2 separate regions of the Homo sapiens genome follow, and region 2 is linked to region 1. Evidence: fine-mapped expression QTL. Tissue or cell type: blood mononuclear cells. Region 1 holds a variant in brackets; the other region holds the start of a gene. All regions are shown on one strand. Distances are from middle to middle.

The links. PIP is the estimated chance that this variant, and not a neighbour inherited with it, causes the effect.
Region 2: IRAK2 starts here. The variant in region 1 is fine-mapped to the expression of IRAK2 in blood mononuclear cells (TOPMed, PIP above 0.99). The same link has a PIP of 0.9 or more in T cells, monocytes after LPS, monocytes after Pam3CSK4 and whole blood.

The regions. Positions count from the first base shown.
Region 1 is chr3:10,193,509-10,196,353 of GRCh38, reverse strand. All of the region lies in intron 2 of IRAK2 (interleukin 1 receptor associated kinase 2), which reads right to left. Among named protein-coding and RNA genes, the nearest start is that of IRAK2, 30 kb to the right of the region's middle. The variant C/T (reference allele first, on the strand shown) is at 1,200.
Region 2 is chr3:10,163,606-10,166,255 of GRCh38, reverse strand. IRAK2 (interleukin 1 receptor associated kinase 2) reads right to left here and starts at 1,337. Exons shown (of 13, transcript NM_001570.4): 1 at 1,208-1,337. The coding sequence starts at 1,301. RefSeq lists silencers at 1,023-1,172, 1,373-1,502.

The sequences.
Region 1 (2,845 bases):
CACCTGTGGTCAGGAGTTCTGGACCAGCCTGGCCAACATGGCGAAACCCCGTCTCTACTAAAAATACAAAAATTAGCCAGGCGTGGTGGTGCACACCTGTAGTCCCAGCTACTCAGGAGGCTGAAGCAGGAGAATCGCTTGAACCTGGGAGGCGGAGGCTGCAGTGTGCTAAGATTGTGCCACTGCACTCCAGCCTGGGCAATAGAGCAAGACTCTGTCTCAAAAAACAACAACAACAGAAAACCAGTCCCTTGTACAGAATGACAATGAACAATGTCGGGGTGAGTGCTGATTCAAGCACGGGTCTGGAACAGAGCTGTCGCTCCCAGGGTGCACAGAAGTGAAAGCTCTGCCTGTGCTCCCTTGGAAGGCTACCCCCCGCCACTCCCAGTCCTCATCTTTCCCAGCCTCCCCTCTCTGGCAGGGAGAGACTGCCTCTCTCCCTCCACCCTCCCTCCTCAAACTGCCTCAAGTGGGGCTTATGCTCCTGGAAAGGCTTGTCATCCTTGTGACATCTGTGTCAAAAGGGCAGCAGTGGCTCCCCTGGCTCAGGGCCGGCTGGGCTCGCTGAAGTCACTTCCCAACAGTGACCTCCTGCAGAGGCCAGGCCCGCAACAGTATAAAATGCTCCCTAAAGGTCTCACCTACACCCAGAACCGCCCATGATCCCAGCAAATGAGGCACCTTCTCCTTGTCGGAGGCCTGCCTGGCTGAGCCTCATTGTTCTCATCACAGTAAAACGGGGATGAGGGTGATACTTACAGCCTTACTTAACTTCAGTGTCCTGTTCCTTTTTTTTTTTTTTGAGACAGGGTGTTGCTCTGTCACCCAGGCTATGCAGTGGTGTGATCACAGCTCACTGCAGCCTCAAACTCCTGAGCTCAAGCTATCCTCCTCTCTTAGCCTCCCATGCCGCTGGGATTACAGGCAACACCACGCCCAGCTAATTTTTAATTTTGTGTAGAGACAGCATCTCACTATGTTGCCCAGCCTGGGCTCAAACTCCTAGGCCCCAGTGATCCTCCCACCTTGTCCTCCCAAAGTGCTGGGATTACAGGCCTGAGCCACTGCTCCCAGTCCAGTGTCCTATTCAGGGTAATGTTTTGTTCAGCACAAATCTTTGCCTCTCTGTCAAAACACATTTGGCAGGAACATCAAGGCCACCAACCCATTTGTGGCCGACCTCTGTGGGCTCCACC[C/T]GTGGGGAAGATAAAAAATGTCATTATGTTTTCATCCTAAAGAGAGTCCAGCTTTTCTCTTTCTTTTTCTTGTTCCTTCTGCAGTGACATGCGGTGGCCCCACCTGGCACCACAGGGCATTTGGAAGTGAGCAGGAGTGAGGAACAGATGGGGAGGGGCGGTGTCGGCAGGGCTACCTGTGACCAGACCTGTCAGCACACTTGGGGCTAACATCCACCCTCCCACACAAGAGGCACCAGGTCACACCAGCCACGGATGTAAGCCAACAGAGCCCCATGTCAGCCCCAACAAGAAGTTCTGGTTTCCTGTGAAACCCCCATCTTCTCAAGCTTTGAGTTTTTAGATGTCTTTAAAATGCAAGCAATAAATGGTGCGTATAAACATGAACCGCCCTCATCTCCACCCTGGAGCTGCCGGCATGGTCTGAGCTGGGTGGACAGGCAGGCCCATGCATGCCTGTCCCACTGTCCAAACATGAAGATGGAGAAAATGGCCTCTGTCCTCATCCCTCCAAACCTGCTCCCTGCTAGCTAGAAAGACGCAACGCCCACTCATTCAGGCTGGCACACCAGAGAGCTAGTGAAATAAAAATAGAACACCAAAGGCAGGATGAGGCAAAGGAGGCCAAATGCCTACAAGAAAGGGCTGTGACAAGCTTTAACTCTCGCACTGAGCTTCCTATCTGCCAAGGCCAAGGCTCAGGAGTGAGCTGCTCACGGACTTCTTATCACAGATAGACAGGGGCAGCCTCAGGCTTCCAAGACAGCACTCTTTCCTCCCAGGATTAAATTCTCAAGAGAATTCCACACATAAAGTTGATTCTGCAGGATCATGAGATCCAAAAACACAGACTGTGATCAAAGAGTAGAACTAGGATCACAAGAGTAAGCGTGGGGAAGCGTCGGCTCTGGCTTGAGCCAGACCCAAGCTCTGCGATTCCAGCTTCACGCCCAGGCACAGACCTCCTAACCCTCTGAGCTTCATGCGCCTCTCCTGTGGAATCAGAATAATAACCCCACACCTCCCAGGGCCGTCCCAGGGCTCCATGATGACAAATGTGAAGTGGCTGGCCCAGGGCAGGGGCCCACAACACTGTGCAAACAGCCACCCTCCTTCAGTTCTGCCAGAAAGGTGCAGATAGAAAAGAACCTCTGATTCCCAACTCGGGCCTCCGAAGGAAGCATTTAGGGTGGAAGGCTATTTTTAACATTTTAAACACTCTAATGGAAACCGATTCTAGGTGGGCAGCAACTTGGTGCACAGTCCCGAGAGGTACAGTGGCCATGAGAGCAAAGTAACATAGGAGCCCAGCAGCAGGGGAGGTGGGGGCCTGTGCCCACGCCATTGGCAGCCAGCCTCAGTCACACACTGGAGGTGGGCAGCCCAGGGTTCTCCCTGCTGGGACCCCCAGGGATAGGAAGGGGACGCAGGTGACGGAAGGAACAGCTAATCTATAGCTTAGGTGGCCACAGGCACCAGAAGGTTGACACGGCAGTTCTCAGACAGAGTCTGGATTTTTTGTTTTTGTTTTTGAGGCAGAGTCTTGCTCTGTGACCCAGGCTAGAGTGCACTGGTGCAACCATAGCTCACTGCAGCCTCTACCTCCCAAGTTCAAGCAATCCTCCCACCTCAGCCTCCCAAGTAGC
Region 2 (2,650 bases), 30 kb after region 1:
ACACTGAATCTATTAGGACACATCTGATCTCAAAACAGGTTGATAGTCATAAATACTGTGATCAAAACAATGTACACTAAAAGTAAATATCTGATTTTAAAACTATAATGGTAAAGTACATTTAATCACAAATATGATAAATAGGCTGGGCACAGTGGCTCACGCCTGTAATCCCAGCACTTTGGGAGGCCGAAGCAGGTGGATCGCCTGAGATCAAGAGTTCCGGAGGCCGGGCGCGGTGGCTCATGCCTGTAATCCCAGCACTTTGGGAGGCCCAGGGTGGGCGGATCACAAGGTCAGGAGATCCAGACCATCCTGGCTAACACGGTGAAACCCCGTCTCTACTAAGAATACAAAGTTAGCCGGGCGTGGTGGCGGGCGCCTGTAGTCCCAGCTACTCAGAAGGCTGAGGCAGGAGAATGGCGTGAACCCGGGAGGCGGAGCTTGCAACGAGCCTAGATCGCGCCACTGCACTCCAGCCTGGGCGACAGAGTGAGACTCCGTCTTAAAAAAAAAAAAAAAAAAAAAAAAAAATAGTTCAAGACCAGTCTGGCCAACATGGTGAAACCCGGTCTCTACTGAAAATACAAAAAATTAGCCAGGGTGGTAGCGGGCGCCTGTAATCCCAGCTACTCGGGAGGCCGAGGCAGGAAAATCGCTTGAATCCCAGAGGTGGAGGTTGCAGTGAGCCGAGACCGTGCCATTGCACTCCAGCCTGGGCAACAACAGCGAAACTCCGTTTCAATATATATATATATGTTAAATCATAGATCCTTCTAATATACACTAAAACTAAACACACCACACACACACACACACACACCCCCCCAAGAAGTGACAGCACCGTGGGTCCCTACAGGGTCGAGGCTCGCACTTTGCAGGCTGTTGTGGGCTGGATGAGAGGCCACCTGGGGACGTCACCGAGCCAGCAGCGCTGACAGGAGGGCCCCCGTACCCACCGTTCTCTGGACTCAGAGCGCAGTGGCGGCGGCCCCTGCTCGTCGACAGACGTCCTCAGAGACCACGCGGCACCTTCAGGTGACAGGCCGAGGTCCGCGGCGGACCCGGTCCAGGAGGCTCAGCTCGCACGCCCTCGGATCGGGACCCGCTGAACCCGGGTGCCCGAGGGAGCTTGGCGGCCGCTCCAGGCGGGATCGCTGGGGGCTCCGGTCGCCCTGGTCCCCTCCCCTCCCCGGGCCGCACTCACCGAACTCCATCCAGTCCCACTCGCTGAGCGCGTCCATGTTGCGGCACAGGTCGTCCAGCACCCAGGAGGGCAGCTGGTAGATGTAGCAGGCCATGGCACGCTACGGGGCCGGCTCCGGCGCGGGACGACTGGGTCGGACACTGCGGGCTGCGGCTTCTCTAGCCAGGGGCGGACCGGCGGGGAAGTGGGCGGGGCGGGAGGGCACCAGCGTCCCCAGCGGCCACGGGCGGCACGACGGCCCCGCCGGCTCCACCCCAGCGCCGGCCAGAGAATCGGAACTGCGAGGGGAAACTGAGGCCCTGGTGGGAGAAGGCCACACGGGAATTCTGCCGCAGCGGCAGGAGGCCTTCTGACCCCACTTCCATCGGCACTACACCATGCATCATGCGCTCATCAAATACTCCATTAATTACCTACTGTATGCCAGGCAACTCCCTAGGTGTTGGTAATACCTGAATAAGAAACCCTACAGCCGGGCGCGGTGGATCACTCCTGTAATCCCAGTACTTTGGGAGGCCGAGGCGGACGGATCACGAGGTCAGGAGTTCGAGACTAGCCTGGCCAATATGGTGAAACCCCGTCACTACTAAAAATACAAAAATTAGCCGGGCACGGTGGCGCACGCCTGTAGTCCCAGCTACCTGGGAGGCTGAGGCAGAAGAATCGCTTGAACCCTGGAGGCGGAGGTTGCAGTAAGCCCAGATTGTGCCCTTGTACTCCAGCCTGGGTGAAGAGTGAGGCTCTGTCTCAAAAAAAAAAAAAAAAAAAAAAAAAAGCCTACAAAAGCCCTTGCTTTCATAAGACTTACAATCTAGGTGTGGAGAGAAAGACTAACAATAAATAATAAATATAGTATGTTACAGAGTGTCTTAAAGGTAATAAGCACTATTGCAAAAAAAAAAAAAAAGGAAAAAAAGTTGGTTAAAGGGAATCAGGAATTCAGATTGAGCATGGGGAATATTCTATTAAATAGGGTAGTCAGGTAGACTTTACTATAGTAGCTAATATGTATCGTGCAGCTACTATGTGCCAGGCACTGTTGTAGGTGCTGGGAATACCTCTGAAGAGAAGGACAAAATCCTTGTCCTGGAGGGAGACAGACAACAAGCAATAAAAATAGGCAGATAAGCTATGTTGGAGAATGAAAGTAGAAGCCTGGGCAACATAGGAAGATCTTATCTCTACAAAAAACTTTTTTTTTTTGAGACGGAGTCTTGCTCTGTAGCCCAGGCTGGAGTGCAGTGGCGCAATCTTGGCTCACTGCAGCCTCTGCCTCCCAGGTCCCGGTTCAAGCAATTCTCCTGCCTCAGTCTCCCGAGTAGCTGGGATTACAGGCACGCGCCACCACGCCCAGCTAATTTTTGTATTTTTAGTAGAGACAGGGTTTCACTGTGTTGGCCAGGATGGTCTTGAACTCCTGACCTCGTGATCCGCCTGCCTCGG